2 separate regions of the Homo sapiens genome follow, and region 1 is linked to region 2. Evidence: fine-mapped expression QTL. A gene starts in region 2. The other region holds a variant in brackets. All regions are shown on one strand. Distances are between the middles of the regions.

What was found. PIP is the estimated chance that this variant, and not a neighbour inherited with it, causes the effect. A credible set is the group of variants that fine-mapping cannot tell apart.
Region 1: its variant is the best candidate, but not a certain one, in a credible set for the expression of FGF2 in subcutaneous fat (FUSION, PIP 0.53).

What each region holds. Positions count from the first base shown.
Region 1 is chr4:123,138,426-123,148,358 of GRCh38, reverse strand. The region is part of intron 14 of AFG2A (AAA ATPase AFG2A); the gene reads right to left. Among named protein-coding and RNA genes, the nearest start is that of AFG2A, 220 kb to the right of the region's middle. The variant C/T (reference allele first, on the strand shown) is at 3,963.
Region 2 is chr4:122,821,945-122,831,877 of GRCh38, reverse strand. FGF2 (fibroblast growth factor 2) reads right to left here and starts at 5,047. Exons shown (of 3, transcript NM_001361665.2): 1 at 4,526-5,047. The coding sequence starts at 4,703. RefSeq lists enhancers at 3,515-3,564, 3,091-3,616, 3,605-3,744, 3,617-4,142, 4,425-4,504, silencers at 4,090-4,384, 4,725-5,204, cis regulatory regions at 5,704-5,742, 5,743-5,813 and promoters at 4,870-5,837, 5,006-6,188.

The DNA of each region.
Region 1 (9,933 bases), 320 kb before region 2:
TTAAAAGCATTTCTCTCTCTCCCCCTCACTCCCCACTTTTCAACAAAATGTGGAGTTCTGGTCTCAATCATTATGCACACGTAGCTCTTAGTGCTAAAAAGGAACTGTATGTATACTTAAAAAAGAAAATTGAGATTTTTGCCTTCTCACATGTACCCATGTTTAAATAGTGGTAAAGGATGTAATTTCCAGAGTTTTGTAAATATTGAGATTTTAAAATAAGACCTTTACATCAACTCTTTCAACATATTCAACAGATTTAAATATACAGTGATTTAACACTACCATCTATTTAAAAGATATCTTTGAGAAATTTTACACTGCTCTTTTTTTCTCCTTGAATTTGTACTTCTACTCTACTATCCCAATAGAATTTCCTTCTTTCTCTGATCATCTTGTAATAATTCTTAGAAAAATATGCACATATTTTGAAATTTTAAAAAGTGTTCACTCATATGAACATAAGGTTCTAAGTATTACGTTTCTTCTGGATTGAATGAGCATTACAATGATTCATGTACAATTACATAAATGTATTAATGATTTTTGGAAAATATAATTAAACATTAAGGTTATAGAAAGTTCGTTTCTTAATGAGACAGCTGGAATCCTCTTATTAGTCTCCCTCCCCAGTGAATTTTTATAGACATTGTAAACTATTACTTATTGCTACAATTCAATTTTTTAGATTCTATTTCAATTTCTAAAAAAAATTTGTGGAATAAAGTACAGAGAAACCTTGTTCATACAAATAAGCGAGAAGTAATTCTGTTCTAATCATATTCCTCAAGTATTTGAAATCTGTCTATATTATATATCAGGAATGATGACAGATAACAACTGAAAATCTTTTTTAATTGTAACTACTGAGAAAATAAGAATGAAAAAGGCAAATGGTAATTATTATGATCTTCAGACCACACTCAGTAAACTGGTACTGAGTACCAGTTTAATAATAGATGGCTTTAGTGCCATCTATTCTCTCAAACGTAATACCTGTATTTCCCACTGCCCACTTGTTTGATGCTTCAGAGGTAAAGAGGAGTTTGGAGAAGAGAAACTTCCACCCCCATCACAAGTGAATTCTCAAGCAGATCAGTTTTAGGCACTAAAGATCTAGAAATGGGTTTCCTTAAACTATCATTCCTATGTATACCATGCACAACCAAGACATGACATCTCCTGGTTTAAAGAGATTCATTAAATTTAAGAAATTAGTTAACTTTGATCATACAGCATTTAAGTGTTAGAGTAAGATAACAGAAGAGTGAAATGGGAACACAAATATATAATATAAAATAAGATCAAGTTTATCATAAAATGTTATAGATCTTGGAGTTTCCAGTATAAAGGAAGGAAAAATTGTTTAGGATAGAAAATAACTTGGAAGTGAAAGGAGTATGGGGCATTTGTTGGGACAGATCTTTGCTCACGGAAGACTTATGAACAATGTGACATGACAGCATAGGTTGCCCTAGTAGTCAGTCCCTAGGTGTATGTCCCTAGCAACTGCAACGAACTCAAACCCTGTGCGCTTTGCCTTGTAGTGTAATCATGAGGGAAAAAAATGAGAGGTTTGGCATCCACCCCTTGTGATCTGAAAGAATAAAAATATTGGAGGCTTGGTTAAAGTGACACAATGGTTCCAATGGTGCTGCAACATGTTCAGATAAAAAAGCACCTGGAAATCTGTGTTCTTTGTTTCGTTTGGTACTGAAGCTCTTTTCTCAATTTATCAGTATCTGTTCATGTTATCTCTGATGTCTATTATTAAACAGAGAGCTTAATTTTGAGTTTCATAACTATGCATATTTTTCACTGTTAGTGTCTAAAGTTCATAAATACTTTCCCTGATGAATACAAGAACCTCAAAATTTTCACCTACTCTGATCTCTAACTGACTTCCTTACCCATCTTGTCCCCATAACTGCTGAAAGACTAATATTACCTGGAGTTTTAATTCTAAGCCAACAAATTACTTGGCTCTTATTTCTTTTCTTCCCCTTCTTTTCCGTTTTTCTCCCCATTGTGTGGCTATAAAACTATACCCTTTCTTGGGTTCTTTATTTCCTTTTACTAACTATATCTCACTAGTTCCTTCTGGACATACTTTTCTTGCCTGGTGCTTTTCAGAAATAGTGTTGGTACAGTAAGTTTTCTGAGATCTTGTATATGAGCAAATATCCTTACTTCTCCCTCATATTTAAATAAGTTAGTTGGATAAAATCTTAGGTTCAAAGTTAGTTTCCTATTTAGTGGCCTCTTGCATCTAGTGTTGTTGAGAAATCTGTCAGTCTAATTCATGACAGCAAATCAATCTCTTTCTGTTGGCATTTATCACATGTGTTAACAGGATTCTAGACATTAAATTTGCATTAGAAGTACAAATATGTTCTAAATTGTTCTGAAGTACTGCTATAAGTATTCAGAGTATACACAACCTCCAAAAAGAAAAAATAATCCAAAGATTAAGAAATAACATAAAAATACATTAAATTACTGTTAATTAAACTTTAAAAGTTCGTAGTCCAGTTTTCAGTAATTAGGATGCCACTCTCAAGTAGACATATTATTCTTTAACCAATATACCAAAAGGATATACCTCATTGGGGATCAGTTTCCTAATCTATAAAATGAGTAAATATTTGGAAGAGAATTTTATGTAGTGAATTCTCAAGGAATGATACTAACATTTTTCACTTTTGTTATTATCGTTTGGAAACTGTTAATGTCACCGGCTTTGGATTTAAACAGATTTAATACTAGTATATAAACTACTGACTACTAACTTTGTGGAAGTTTTAAATTCCCTAAACTTCAGATTCCCCTCATGTAAAAGGAAGAGATAATGAAAAGTGCTTAACATATTAGCAGATTGAAAGTGCATTATTTGCTACTATTATTAGGTGTGCAGTAATCTAATTGCTTAATTTGTCATATAACCAGTGAGTTTTATCTGAAGGACTCCTGTGTAATTTACAAGATGAAATGAAGAAACTGAAGCCAACTTTAAGGCTTTTATGTCTTTTACTCTGTATGTTCCTCTTCCCTGATGTATCTGTCCACAGTTTTCAGTTTCATTCAAAAATTGGGCAACTGAGTAAAAGAGCTGGCCCATGTATGCAAGTTCCATCAGTGTGGCCAGGTAAAATTATTCTCCAAATTGAAAAATGAGTAATAGAAATGGTAAGAAAAATAATTATTAATTATTTTTTAAAAATTAACTCTATGCAAGGCACAGCCTCTAGAACCACCACAGGAAGAGAGTGAATCTCTGCCTTTTAGAAGCTTCCAATTTCGGGATAAACAAAAAGATAAACAGCAATGTAAAGTCATATGCATTAAATGCTGAGTGGATCTTCTAGCCTGTATGTTCTAAAGAAAATGGAAAAGAGAAAAAAAATTATTGTCTTAGGAAAATAATTGCTTCCAGTACATTTTCAAAGCCAGTTCCACTTTTCCACAGGTCCATCTACTGAAAGATGAAACCAAAACCAACAGAAGACTACAAGGCCATTCAGAACTATTCATAAACTAGTATGACCAATTTCATCAAGTAATCAAGAAACAAAGTTCAAGTTCCTATGACTCTGAAAATTTTACAACACAGGTTCTTTGAGGTCACTTTTCCTATGTTTCAAAAACTGACTATAAAAACAAGTACTTTTCCCCCAACTTTATTGAGAGAAATGCTTTTGCTTTTAATCATATCTAACATTTAAGACAGGTTAAAGAAAGGAAATATCCCTTTTAATTATGGAGCTTTTTAATTACTGTGTGGTTTACAACAGTCTCACTTACAAGTCATCGTCCTTTCAAAACTAAAGCTAGCATCTCTCTTTATAGTATTATTTACTGGCTTCCCTTGCATCTGGCACCCAGGTCAGTGCATAGCAGATCAAACTATAATCTGAGCTCAGATCACAATGAAACAAAAGCCAAGGAAAGCCCAGTTAGCATTA[C/T]TATATTACTTACAGCATGTAAATAAGCTGAATTAGATAATTTACATTTTATCCTTACATTAATTGAACTTTGCTGTGCAAGCCAGAAAGGTATCTATTAGAAAAAAATATTAAAAGCAAATGAAGCCAACAGATATATAGAGCTAAACAATGAGAACACGCTCTTTTCAAAATTTCCATCAGATCTATAAGGCAGTATAACAGAAAGAAAATGATTACAGTAATTCCTAGAGCAACTGGAAAAGTTGTCAACCCCATAGGTGTAGATTATTCTTGAGTTTTTCTACCCATTTACTGCCTTTTCCCCAGGTATACCACACAAGTTAATTCATTTATCCACTCACTCAACATCTGTGGAAATACTTCCTAGTACTAAACAAAAAGTCTGGGCTAACGAATACAAAGATGAAAACATTATATAGCATTACGATGAAAACATTATATAGCCCTTACAAAACACCAGTAGTCTGTTGCTGGTGAGGCCTGACTTTCTGACTGAAAAGAAGGAAAAATAGATTTAGCTTTCTAAATGTCCTTTCAGGTTAAAGGAAAAAAAAAAAAAAAAGAGAGAGAAGTTTATGCATATCCCTGAATGAAGTCAAGCTTTGGGTTCAGGAGTATTTTTATTTTCTCCCCCATGTATGAAATTTTAAAATCATTCATCCACCGAGAAATGCAAAGCATTACATTCTATTCTTCATGTTTCCACAGATTGGAGACTAACTTTATTAGTATATAATGCCAATTTATTAACATAATTTCTCCTTATTTCCTCTTAGTAACACTTAAGTCATGCCTTCTTTAAACTCTTGTACCTATATCAGCACAAATACTGTACTTAGTTATTTGCCCGAAAATTGGAAAAGCTCATAAGAAGGTGGGTTACTGACAATGGATAAGAGCCATATATACATCAACCATTGCAAATTCCATCAGATCTTGGAAATCCCTAGAAAGAAAGGCACAGATGTGATATACGTTAATTATCAAATTGTGAAAGAGAAAGTAGATGTTGATAGGTCTCCCAAAAGATTATTTATAGTTAATGTAATAGCGACGACTGCTGAAAACTTGCTGAAATATTTTGTAAAACAGGATTACATTTTTTAACATTAGAATTGAAAGGGAAAAATAAAGCAATTGAAGGTACAACAACTTAAAAATTTTAGTGCTAAAGTCGGGTGTGTATCTTTGATAATCTTTCTTTTTTTTTTCTGGAAAAACTAATAATACAGGGTGAATACCCCTTATCTGAATTGCTTGGGACCAGAGTGTTTCAGATTTCAGATTTTTTTTGGATTTTGTAATATTTGCATTATACATACTTACTGGTTTAGGGTTGAGCATCCCAAACCTTAAAATCCAAAATCCTAAATGCTCCAATGAGCATTTCCTTCAAGCATTATGTTAGAACTCAAAAGTTTCAAATTTTGGAGCATTTCAGGTCTTGAATTTTCCAACTTAGAATGCTCACCCTGTAATAGCTATTGCGTCTCAAGGCCTCACTTTACAACAAATTGTAAGCCAAATGATTCGTATAAATTATCTCTTCTGATCCCCTAATATTTCTACAAAAGAGTTATCATTCCTATTTTAAGATCCATGTATACTGCAGATTATTTTTAAGGGAAAAGCAAGTAGTTATGCAATCCTGTATTAGGTAAAGAAGTACTTTTCACAGCCATTCTTGGTTTTCCAGCTGTTGGGAGATTAACCCTGAGAGAGCATCTAAAGAACTACCATTCTCTTAAATTAAAGGCCACAGAATGAAGTGAAGTCTATGACAGATTACCAAAGTTAACGTATCTCAAGTTGTTTAAGAGGGACATGAAATCAACAATGAATAGATTCCTTGGAAATATGACAATTTAAAGATGAAAGAAAATTACTCACATATATAATACAAAATTATATCTGCTTTATCCAAATGTTAGTTTTTCTGATGCTTTCTAAATTAAATATATTTATTTATATGACGAACATTCACCAAAACTTAAGAGTACCAGGAACCATGCTAGACTAGGCCATGAATAAAACATGACTGCTGTCTACCCAGGCCTGTGAAAGACTTTACATCTATGATAGCACTGTAGTAACTACCAAGGCTATATGCATGTGTACTTACATGCATGCATACATACATTCATTCCTACATTTGACAAATGAGTAACTCTATGTAATAAGGTATTGTTCTAGGTCATGTTCAGTGATAATTAGTATCCAAAAACAATTAAAAACTTCACAGTGATACAGATATTTAATGCCAAACAGCCAACCTCTCTTGCTAAATTCTTCGCAAAAATATAACCTATATTCACTGTCAGCTGTCCCAGTTGTGTCTATATAACATTAAAGAAAGGAGGAAAACATCAAGGAGTTTTAGATGATGAGATGAGTCAAAGACCATACGAATTCAAATAGTCAACCTAAAGCTCTAAGGACAATACTGCCAAGGAATGGTCTTAAAATACATATATCCCCCCTTTTAGGAGGGGTCACGTTTGCTACAAAAAAGTGGCAAGTGAGTAAAAAGGCAACCCACAGAATGAAAGAAAATGTTTGCAAATCATCTATCTGATAAGGGATTAATATCCAGAATATATAGGGAATACCTAAAACCCAACAACAACAAACAAAAAACAAACAACCCAGCTCAAAAGTGGGCAAAAAACTTGCATAGACGTTTCTCCAAAGATGCAGATCGAGCCTCTACTTACAACGGAGTTCCATTCTGATAAACCCATCAAGCTCAAAATATTAAATCAAAAAAATATTTAACATACCTACCCTACTGAACATCATAGCTTAGCCCAGCCTAACTTAAACATGCTCAGAATACTTACATTAGCCTACAGGTGGGCAAAACAAATCTGGCAACACAGTACACTATAGAGTAACACTGTTTTTTTGTTTGTTTGTTTTGTTTTGTTTTTGAGACCGAGTCTCGCTCTGTCACCCAGACTGGAGAGTGCAGTGGGGCAATTTTGGCTCACTGCAACCTCCGCCTCTGGGTTCAAGCGATTCTTCTGCCTCAGTCTCCTGAGTAGCTGGGACTACAGGCCCACGCCACCATGCCTGGCTAATTTTAACTTCCTAGTCAATGCAGCAGAAATGTAATATAATTTTTAAAAGCACCCAGAACAACTGGGAGATCAATGCCTACCAGAACAAGCAAGTCCCCTAGTGAAAAATTCCAATTCACCACAAAGTTATTCTTTTTGTTTTGCTAGAAACTTTCTTTTAAAATCATGTCTTTTCTAGAGAACAGACTTTTAAACACATGAAAACAGTAACTATTTTACATTCTATTATCCATGGTAAAAATATGCTGTGGACCTTGCCTGTTATGTCCAAAATTAGTTGCAAATCATGAAATCTCAAAATTGTGTGTTATATTCTAGATGTCATCTCACCAGGACAGAATACTATGAAGTTATTAGTTATGCAATCTAGATGCTATAATTAATGTAGGCTAAAATGACACGAGCATTTTTTTTAGTAGTTTCATGACAATGTTAACTTTTGTTCCATGTGGGGTCAAATTTCCATGTACCACCAAACAAGTAAAATCTTTCTCATCCTACAAGTGTTACTTTAGTGAACTTAAATGTAAAATTTTAGATTTGTTTTCAGTAAACTCCATATTGTGAAAATGTTATATAATGTTAAGATTATTATTACCATGAATATAAAAATTAGTATCTTGTCAAAGTTTAAAAAATGGGAATACACATAGAGCAATGTGATAATAAGCAATCAACTTTAAAAAACAAGTATACAAAGGGTTACCCTTAAGTAGTTTTAAATAAGAAGCAAATTTAATTCAGTATTTTTCAATTGAGAGATTTATAATGCCTGTGGCATTACAAGAAAGAATCGCTTTTTTAAAAAAAAAAAAACCTTATCCTCTAAGGGAGGTGTTGTGACACAGAACAGGTGTGAAGCATTGACTCAATAAATAAGCCTAACATATCATCATATATCAATCATTTAGAAGGCTATTTGCATTATTTTCTATTGTGATGTTGGAATGTAAGTAAAAGAAGAAAACCAGAATTTTAAGCACCAAATCCATTAAGCTATGTACATCTAGCACTCCCAACTACTGAAACTGAAAGCAGATTCAATTTAAAAAATAAGAGTGGTTGACAAAGGATGGATTTTTTCACTTACTCATTCTCCCGTATCAACAGCTTTATTTCCTACCTGTCATTTACTCAACTAAAGGTTAGATATTCTGAAAACAGGTTTGTTTACTTTACATATCAGGATTGAAGGAAAGAAACGAAATATAGTACAGTATTTATTTTCCTGAAACAGTTACCAAAATTTTAGCCTTCAAGAACTATGGTATACCAAAGAAAAGAGTAAATCCCTTGATCTCTCAGTGACCTATCTGTTGATATTTGCCTACTCCTGAGGGCTGCTTGAATACCTGAACAATTTGTTTTATCCTGGAAACCTATTTCTCTGCTATGACTGAAAAATAATGGGTATCAGTCTGAAAACAGAAAAAGCTCATATTAAATAATAGGCTTATAAAATTTAATAGAATGTAGAACTTGAATGATTCAGAAAATCAGTAACCATTCACAAAATAAATGGTTCCCAAAATTGCTCCTATTTATGGCCAAACCATAATGTAATAATGTGGCAATTTTTGTAAAGCATGTAATGCAACATAAGTTTTGACTTAAATGAAAGATAAAAGTACACCTCATAATGACTAGTCATTAATCCAGGTATTGCTTTATCAATCTAATACCCTGAAACTTACTGAGTATCTTAATTCACTAATATGAAGTTTAAATTGCCACTGAAGTATATTCTTTATTACTACATTTGTAAAACTAGAATTTACACTGTTACCTGTGGCTTTTCCAAATCAAAATTCTAACTGACAGATGGATCAAGTTTTAATCTTCAAATATTGGTGCTGATTTTCTCAAATCTTTAAAAGTTATTTGATTCCAGAAAGAAAGAAAAAATAAATAAAAGATGGTTGTGTCTGAGACCTGAGGCTATTAAGAAAGAAAACAAAACTACAGGTTGGTTAAAGGAAGTCTGTAGAATTATTTCCCTACTGGTTTTAATGAATGTTTCTGAATGACCTTTGAGTACCAGTTCATTAAGAACAAGACAGTGATTGCTACAGAATCAGGAAAGGGAATGCAAAGAGAAAGTTGCCAAATTCAAAGGCTTTTAAAGTATTTTCACTCTATGTACTTGGAAATAATTTGTTTCATAGGCATCAAGCTTTTGTCTTAATATTTACATCTGTTTTATCTCCTCATTCAAGAAAAGCTATAATATAATCAAAGTTACAGAAGAAACAGATAGCTATTAAAAATTCCAAAATTTAAATACCTCTTAAAACCACATGGTTAATAGGAACATTTTAGGTGGATAATGTAAAGAGTATTCCCATTTCACTGGTAAGGTTTGAGTCTGATTAAAAATTCTAGTTCTTTGATATACATATATTTTATACATATACATGTATATGTGTTTCTAAATTTGAATTTATTCAACTCTGGTATCCTAAGAAAAAATGTAAATCTTATTTTTGTTATTATTATTCACTAATAGTATAAAGTATGGTTCCCAGTCTGTCGGTTGTAGGCTCCTGGGCTTGAAGACCTATAAATACCAAATATTACCTTAAAAAAATGAAAAAGTATATTTTGAATATATTTATTTTTTTTCCAAATGTTAAGTGTACGCTGTTATGATTACAAAAAATAGATAATTAAAGTGTTACACAACTTGCAGTAGTATTTTCCCATAAGGTATTTTTAAAATTACACTGAAAAAATTTAACTGCAATTATGTGGGAATCACAAATTGTTTTGATTCCAAAACTAGTTCAACAATATCAAAAATGTTTAAAGTTTCTGGAATACATTTAAGAGCTATCTTAAGAAGTATGAAATATGTCTTAAAAATGAGAAAATAGTAAGCTTTTATGACA
Region 2 (9,933 bases):
CTTTAAAATTATGTCCTTCCACATAAAATGGCATCATAAATCAAAATGAGAATACTTAAAACCCAATTGTTACACCATTGTCAAAGTCTAATTACATAACGGTCATTTTATAAACAAATGAAACCCCTCAGGGCATGTCATGAGGGGATATTGCCTTTTCTAGGCTGAAGTCACTTGGCATCAAACTCATCTTAAAAGGCTCCTAAGGTGTGGTAATATCTATGACTCATGAATTGTCCTTTCATTGCTGTACTGATTACATGATTTCCAAGATTAAATGAGCTATTAGATTCTGACTTCATTTGTTTACTGCACCCAATATTTATTACAGTAAATATCACGTTCATTAAGTAAAATTATTGCTATCCACTTGCCAGATATTACCAAAGAGAGGTGGGGGGAGAGAATCTAGTACGTGTATTATTAAATCAATGGTTCTATTTACCCCAAAGGCAGTAGTGAAGAGATGGAAAGGTGGCTTTATCCAAAACCCCAGGAAATCAACCTGAGGCACCCGTAAACTAGTAAGAACTCTTCAAAGGGGCTAGCAGCTCACTACCCTGAAATGGAGGAAGCCTAACCAAAGTGGGGTCCAGCAGGGCACACTCTATGGTGGAATGAAGAGCGCACTGAGGCTGAGGGATGGCAGGAAGAGAAGGCAAGGGACCAGGTGGTAAGAAGCTCATTCAGGATAAAAAAAGAGGAAACCCACAAGTGAACTTGAGTAATTGGTGACTTTTCTGAGCTTCAGTATCCTCTTCTGTAAAAAGAGATGGGTAAACCAGAAGGTCTGAAGCCTCCCTTTGATTTCACAAGTCCATGTTTTTATGCTTGGGGTTGCATGGAACACATGCAGTAGCAAAGAGCCCAGGGGTCAGGCCCACCTACAAGCCACCCCTGCTCCACACTGGGGTGGGCAGGTCTGCCTTTCCAAGTCTCAGCGTCCTCTGGAGCCTGCAAGCAAAGAAGTGTGGCACACAGGCAGTCACCTCCTGGGAGAAGCCCAAGGGTAGATACAGTACTTCTAACTACTCTCATTTTTTTTTTTTTTTTTTTTTTTTGTAAATAAGAGCACCTGGAATAAATTGAATACTAAGTGTACATAAGCAGCATACATTTCACTTACTATACTCTACCACATGTTGTACGTGCTGCTTGGGATAAAGTGTTCTCTCTTCTGAATGTTTTTACACAGCTTGCTACTTTAGAGTACATACTTAATATTATCCATTCCCACCGCATTGAAAGAGGCCTGCCAAAAGTTAAGGATGCCAAAAGAAAGGCAGGAGTGCAGCGCACATGCTGGAGAAGGAGAAACTCTCTAACCACTTTTAACATCTTGTTTTTATCAAGACTCTCATGTCAAATGAAGATTATTCCAGGACTATGAGAAAAACGCCAGAAAATGGGCCCTTTTGAGTGCAAATTCAGGAGAATGCCCAGGTGTGAAGCACAGTTGACCTTCAGCAACACTGAAAAATTGGAAACATTTGTGTTGTGTCATCTTCTCCTACCTCTTCTTTTAGAAAATTTTCCTCTCTTTCCTACCTCACAGCTTCCCACTCTGCCTCCTCTTCCCCTGCACCTCTCCAGGACCCCATCATTTATATCACAGTCTTCAAAGCATCCCTCCCCAAACTCCAGTCCTTCTGGCCAGCTTTTGGGGAAGAAATTGCACTCACAATTTAATCCATACTAAATGTTAAAATCTGATAATGGTTGAACTTGGCCTTTCAAAAGTTACCTGCAGTTTAGAAAACATGTAGGCACAAAGTGTCATGCCAAAGGAAAAAAAATTCCAGTGACAGATGTTCAGGTCAGTTGGACAAAACAGTCTGAGGAATGAGACCATAGATTTTTCAACTTTTCAAACAGGTCTAGAAATCTGAGCCATAATGTAGTAGGAAACTGTGGCTACTATTAACTCTTCTCCATGTTTTCTGGTCAGTTTTATTTGTTTTGGGGGGTCTCCTCATGGTTTGGTCAACTATCAGTAAACATCCAATATGTGAGAAAATAATATACTGTACTTAAATTTATGTCCAGGTTGGGCTACATAGAAATAGATGAAATTTGTCATTTTTAGATTTGTATTCTTGTCAGTCTATTGCCTGGTACAGGTATCCTTTAAAAAAAGAGTAGTCTCTTTGGGGACTTGGGAAGAAAGGGTGGGAAGTTGGGGAGGGACAGGACTACAAACTGGATTCAGTGTATACTGCTTGGGTGATGGGTGCAACAAAATTTCACAAATCACCACTAAAGAACTTACTCATGTAACCAACTACCACCTGGTCCCTAAAACCCTATAGAAATAAAAAATTTTAAAAAAATTGGTAGTCTCCACAAGTCTGGATGAGTTATTCTACATTTCCCTTTTAATGTCTTGTCCTTAGCTAGTTATAAAGTTAGCAGAGTTCTCAACCTGAGTACTAGTGACATTTGGGGTCAAAAATGTTTTTGTTGAGGGTATTATAATGTGTATTGTAGGATGTTCAGCAGCATCCCCGGCCTCTACCTGCCAGATGCCAGTAGCACCCTTCCAGGTTACAGCAACCAAAAATGTCTCCAGGCATTGTCAAATGTCCCCTGGGAGGCAAAATCGTCCCCATTTGAGAACCACAGAGTTAAAGTAAGATTACAAAAATGAAAACCCAACTCACAGTTAGGAAGAAAAAGTTAACGGTTGTTTTTACAACGGTGGTAATGTGGTATGCAATTCAAAATTATGTCCACTGGCTAACCTCTACATAGTTTTATTCTAAGGCGAATCGGGTATCAAAATCTTCAAAGAAAAAATGATTCAGCAACTAATAGAGTCTGAAAAAAAAAGAGTATTAGGGGAAGCCCCAAATATTAATTTAATTTAAAGGGAAATTCTTCTGTCTTCTGGTCATAATACATGCTTTTTAATAAATAATTTGTGATACTAGAAAGAACAAAACCAATTGGGACACACAGCACCTTGCCCTTGTCAGCTGAGATGGCGTAGCAGACAACTGCAGAACAAACTTCAATCACAAAGATAATTTTTTGAAATAGATGAGTTCAAGTTACCAGAATAGAGAACTAGCACTAACCCATCTAATAGGTTACAAGCATCTTTTCAGTTTTACGGGATTAAGTGATTGATAAAATTTTTAAATTATGGCAAGCCTGAAAAAAATTAAATACTTGCCTCTCTTGCAGGTTGCTATTTTGGAAGCAATAAAGACTCAGCTCATATGAAAGTGTATTGCCCATTCTTCTGCCAATTCACGTTTGGTTGTAGAATTTTCTTCTCTTCCAGCCCCCCTCCACCTCCCCTCATGACATCCCATTAGCATCCCAAGACAAAGGCAGAACTACAGGGGAGTGGCGCTGGGACCCCTGTGGGTCTTTTCTCAGGCAATGAGAGAATCAGATTCTCCACCTGGAACCCATAAAGGAAGGAACGCCATAACACACAGCTTTTAAAACACATGTTTACATACACTTACAGGAGGACAGGTTACAATATATTCTAGTCCTCTTTCTCTCACTTCAAATTCCATCAGTGTTGTAAATCGGCTCATCTTATGCCCCTTTCTTTCTCTTTCCTCTAGACCAGTGGCTCTCAAAGTGTGATGTGATCAGCATCCCCGGGGAACATGTTAGAAATGCAAATCTTCAGCCCCCACTCCAGACTTAGGGAATCCCCTAAAGTCCAAGCACTCCTTATTTAGGCCAGTGTTCTTTCTAGAACCACAAACATTGTTTCTTACAGAAAGCAAAACTGCAATTCTCATTTCATCCTCAAGCCTGCTGCAAGGTAGTAATATATTAGCCCCACGTGAGCGATGAGGAAACCGGCTCTGGGGTTAAGCGTCGGCTCAAGGTCTCAAAGCTAGTCACTGCAGGTGGAAGATTAAAGTGTTTGCACTTCTTTTCACTACTGAAACAAAGCTATGGCACTTTATTAACAACATCTGGATTTTTTGCTGGTTGGCTGGTTGGTTTTTGTTTTTGCTCTTTCAGCTTTCGTCAATTCGGAAAAATATAAAACAGAGTGGGTGAGAGTAGTGTGCCATATGCCTCGGGTCGTCCCGAGTCGGAATTTAAGGGCAGGACTCTAGAAAGGTGTTTTTCCAGTAAAGACCGTTTCGTTCTGCTGCGGTCCTTCCTGTCTTTGTCCCCGGGACAGCACGCAGCAGATAGAAGCGGCCAGAGCTGCATGGCGGGGCCGCGGGCATCCCCGACGCGACAGGTTGTCCGCGGGAAGACAGCCAGTCCGCGAGGCCCCGGCGCGCCGCGGCTCCGGGCCGGGGGTACTGGTTTACAGGGCAAATTGGCACACCCCAAAGCCCAGGGGACACCCGGGCCTACGCCGCAGCCCGGAAAGGAGGGGGTGAGTGGTGAACCCGAAACCGCCGAGGGCCGCGCGGCCAGAAACCACACGGAGCGCTAGGGTCGCAGTGAAGATCCGGGAGGAGGGTGCAGGCTGGAGGGGAGAGAGCGGGCGAGAACCCACGAAATGGAAATGAGGCGGAGAGAGCGGGTCGGCACTCACTGTGAGGGTCGCTCTTCTCCCGGACCCCGTCAACTCGGCCGTCGGGGTGGATGCGCAGGAAGAAGCCCCCGTTTTTGCAGTACAGCCGCTTGGGGTCCTTGAAGTGGCCGGGCGGGAAGGCGCCGCTGCCGCCATCCTCGGGCAAGGCGGGCAGCGTGGTGATGCTCCCGGCTGCCATGGTCCCTGCGGGGCCCGGCCGGGATCCCCGAGCCGCTGGAGCCGCGCGGGGAGCCGCCGTCCCCCGGCCCCGGCCCCGGCCTCCGACCCGCTCCGGGGCACGGCCCCGGCCCCGGCCCCCCAGCCTCCCGCCCGGCAGCGCGCGGCCGCGCCCGCGGTCCCCCAGCCTCGAGCCGCTCGGCCGCTCTTCTGTCCGCCGGCCCCTGGTGCGCGGCGAGCCGGCGGCCCGGGACCTGGGGTTCACGGATGGGTGTCTCCGCGGACGCCGCCTGGGGAGAGCCGCCTCCCAAGCTGCAGCGCCCGGGATCCCGTTGCAACCGCGGGCACCGCGTCCGCTAATCTGGCACCCGCCGGGCCGCGGCGTCACATCTTCTACATCTCCACCCCCCACACCCACCAGCCTCCCGCGCCCCCAGTTCTCCTCCCTCCTGCGCGCCGCCCCCTACTCGCTCGGGTTTTCTGGGGCCGGCCTCTGAGTTCGGCGGTTCGGCCACAACACGCAAGCGCGCGACATCAGTCCGGCGGGGAGCCCGGCCTCAGTCGGGGGCGGGGGAGAGGCGAGGGGCGGGGGGCGCGCGTCGGAGGCCGCGGCAGGGCTTTGGCATTCCCTGGGCTCCACCGCCCCTTATCCCCCAAAAGTCACCCCCGCCCAACCCCCGCACCACCCAAACCACGTTTAGGCTTTCTCCACACTGCGGGGCTTTTGCTGCGCAACCAGCCGTGACTCAACTTTTAAAAGTTTAAACTCAACTTTCTCCCCCATTTTTTCCCCGCTAGCGTTTCAAAACGGAGAAGCCGTTTCCACCCCAAAGTAGAGAAGTTGCAATCCAAGGAAGAGTCTGTGTCAGAGCAGGCTTTGAAAATCTCTAAATCACCAAAAGACGAGGGGTACAAGTGGGGCATAAACTTTAAAATTAAAGGACAGAGGCTGAAGTCGTCTACCAACAAAAGGAGAGAAAGAGGCCAGAGAAGGGGAGCAGATTGGGTTGCTAAAACGAAAAGGTTTCCTTTACTGACCTATCTTGAATTAGACGACGCAGAAAGATGAGGATGGGGATAAGGATAAATCCTTATCGCGATCGAAGCGCATTAATGTCTTAACTCGGACCTGGCATTTGCCCTAGCTAAATTGTTATGCATTTCTTGGAGAGAGAGTTATTTTCTGTAAATCCCAAATGTAAAATTGAAGTTAATTGCATTTTGGTAATTTTCAGTAGGATATAGCAGGTGCCACAGATGACTAGGAAAATATCTATTCAGAAAACTTGCATGTATTGAGTACCTACTGTGTGCAACACATAATGTTGAGTGTGTGGGAGATGCCAAATCTGATGCCAGCGTCTCACACACTGAGGGAGATAAGATGGGTAGCATGAGTAACACAAATAGCAGTAGAAAGTAGGCCATAGAAGAGTAAGACTAAGTGCTGTGACATTTCAGACATCGGATAACTCAGCGTGGGGAGGCAGGAGATTTGGGGAAGCTTCTAGAAGGAGTTGCAAGTATGGACGTGCCTCCTTGTAGAAACATTAGGTTTCAAAAGGCCATGCATAAGTGCATTTGTTCTTAAGTCTCCAAGAAGGCTTTAACTCCAGATGCATTTCTAGAATGTTACATACAGGAGAATGAGTAAATTCTTTGAAGCTTTAAAACCAGGCATACTGTTTTTATTTTTATTATTTATTTATTTTTTTTAGACAGAGTTTTGCTCTTGTTGCCCAGGCTGGAGATCAATGGCACGATCTCGGCTCACCGCAACCTCCACCTCCTGGGTTCAAGCGATTCTCCTACTTCAGCCTACCGAATAGCTGGGATTACAGGCATGCGCCACCACCACGCAGGGCTAATTTTTTGTATTTTTAGTAGAGACGGGGTTTCTCCATGTTGGTCAGGCTGGTCTCGAACTCCCAACCTCAGGTGATCTGCCCGCCTCAGCCTCCCATAGTACTGGGATTACAGGCGTGAGCCACCGCGCCAGGCCCAAAACCAGGCATATTCTTCTTTCTTCTTGCAGTTGGTATATGTTCTATAGAGGAGGAAAAAAAAAATTTCCCCATTCATTACTAGGTTTATGGCTGAAGCCCCTGTAACAAAAGACACATTAACAAGAGAAAAACATACTAACTTATTTATGTGAGTTTTACACAAAACAGGAGACTTCAGAAATTAAGACCCAAAGTTAAGAGGGAAGCCTGTGTATTTTTAAGGCTAGGATTGATAAAGAAGTGGAAGTCATGGAGAAGTATGATTGGACAAATCTGTGATCTAATGGTAATAAACTGGGGGGACTTACTTAGCAAGGCCTATTTGCTCAGATTCTTTTCCCTGTCCGTGTGTCTTCAGAGATAAGGATGTCTGTTTCCTCCAGGTATAGGGAAGGCACCTCTGGAATGAAGGTCTTATGGTCTGCCTCAGAAGAGAAGATCTGGGGAAAGTGAAAGTAACCCTCTTGCTTCTGCTCTTTTCTTAAGTGCCAAGGTACCATTATTTTTGGGTAGCATGTCCTGAACGCCATCAGTTCTCTAACATCTCTCTCCAAAATGGATTTGTTTCATCTTCATTGAAGATCCGTCTGTTGAGACAAAATCACTCCCTCCAGATGATCTCTGTAGGTGCTACTGTGGTGCTGAGTAGTCCCTAGAATGATTGAACTCTCACTTGAACTCTGTGTCACAGAAACCTGAGGATTCCAGGAGCACGGGGATAAAATCTAAGTCATGATATTTTTTAACAATGGCATCCAGAAACCTGGGGAGCAGCTACACGCAGTAAAATAACTTGTATTCCCTACAATTCAAACAAATAATCTAATTTTCAAATGGGAAAAGATTTGAACAGACACTTCTCCAAAGAAAATATACAAATAGCCAATAAACACATGACAAGGGGCTCAACATCATTAGACATTAGAGAAATACAAATCAAAACAACAATGAGATACTACTTTACACCCACTAGGATAGCTATAATTAAGAAATAACAACAACAAAAAATAATAAGTGTTGAAGATGTGGTAAAAGTGGAACCCTCAAACATTGCTGGTGGAAAGGTAAAATGATGTAGTCAATATAAAAACAGTCTGACAGTTAACTCTAAAATTAAACAGAGTCACCAGACAACCCAGCAATTCCACTCCTAGGTATGTAGCCAAGAGAATTGGAAACATATATTCACATGAAAACATGTACATAAATGTTCATAGCAGCTTTATTCATAATAACCAAAATGTGGAAACAAGCCAGATGTCCATCAAATGATGAATGGATAAATCAATTGTGGTATATCCATACAATGAAATGTTATTTGGCAATAAACAGAAATGAATTACTGATACGTGCTACAACATGGATGAAGCTTGGAAACATTATGCTCAGTGGAAAAAGACAGAAAAGGCCAGGTGTTATATGATTCCATTTATATGAGATGCCTAGGGTAGGCAAATCCATAGAAACAGAAAGCAGCTTAGTGGTTGCCAGGGCTGAAGGAGAGGGAAATGGGCAGTGACTGCTAATGAGTATGGGATTTCCTTTGGGACCTATAAAAGAGTTCCGGAATTAGATAGTGGTGATGGTTATTACACAACTTTGTGAATATACTGAAAACCATTGAATTGAACACTTTAAAATGGTGAATTTCATGATACATGAATTGTATCTTCAAAAAAAGAGAAAGAAAAATAATAGATGTCAAAATGAAAATGAGTTTTTTTCTCCCATAAAGTCGGGAGGAAAAAGATATCATCCAGTGCTATTAAGGATGAGGTGAACCAAAGACCTTATCGACAGTCAGAGGGAGGCTAAATTATACAGCATTTTGGGAAAACTATTTTAAAAGGTACATCACAGTTTTAATTTTTGATTTTTTTTCTTTTTTGAGACAGGGTCTCGCTCTGTCAACCCAAGCTGGTGTGCATTGGCAGAATCGTGGGTCACTGTAACCTCGACCTCCTGGGCTCAGGTGGTCCTCCTACCTCAGCCTCCCAGGTTTGCTGGGACTACAGGCGCATGCCACCATGCCTGGCTAATCTTTTGTATATTTTATAGAGACAGGTTTCACCATGTTGCCCAGGTTGGTCTCAAACTCCTGGGGTCATGCGATCTGCCAGTCTCAGCATGCCAAAGTGCTGGGATTACAGGCATGTGTCACCATGACTGGCCCAATTTTTGAAATTTAAATAACCATTTGAGGCAACAGTTTTGATGTAAGAAATTTATTCTCAAGAAACGATTATAGATGTACACAAGATTTATTAACCTGGATGTTCATTATATCCTTGATCATAATGAGGAAAAATAAGGGATAATCTAGGTGATTAATGTGAATAAATTACATTATATTCATTCGAAGTAGTACGTTCCATGTAGCCAAATAAACAGTTTTGTGGGAGAATATATAATAACATGAAAAAAATTCTTGCAATATTGTATATTGTTAATTGAAAGAAGTAGGTTACAAAACTGTATAATAGTATCTCATTTATTTAATATGCTTTCATACACATAATAGAATGAGAAACACTAAAGTATTTGTAGTGATATTTTGGAAGGTAGAATTTTTTATGCAAACAACTAATTACTCACTATCACATAAACTTATCATCTAAAATTGTATCTTGTTTGTTTTTGTATTTATTATCAGTTTCCTTCCCCTAATATAATACAAGAAAACTTAGAGCAGAGATCTTTCTGACCTGTACATTGCTGTATCCCAAGGACCTAATGGCACTAAGTGGGGCCTCAGTAAGTTGGTTTGCTTGTTTGTTTCTTTTTTGACAAATGAAGGAATGCATTATTTTCATCACCGAAAACTGTTTTTGAAAGCTAAGTTCATCATCTACATTATGGAAGGGCAGGTATCAGTGTAGTCAATGTCTGTGGAAGTCTTTCTTTTAACCATTTCATAATGAAAATCACATTAAACCCATTTCCTTATGAAAATCTCACAAAAAATGCACAAATTACTGTTTTCTAAAACCTAGTACATCAAAAATAATCTTATTAGTTCTCCAGATCATCATCATACTATCAGGTATGAAATAATAGAGTGAACCACTCTATTTTATCTTCACAAGAGGTAGTAAAGATTACTGTCTAACTTTTGTGCTCAGATGACAGATTCTAATGTCACCTAATTGTGCTTTAGCACAGAAAATTATTTAGGTGACTTGTGTCCTTGACTTTTAAAAACAAATAAACAATAACAAACATACAAAACTTCCAGAAATATCCAAT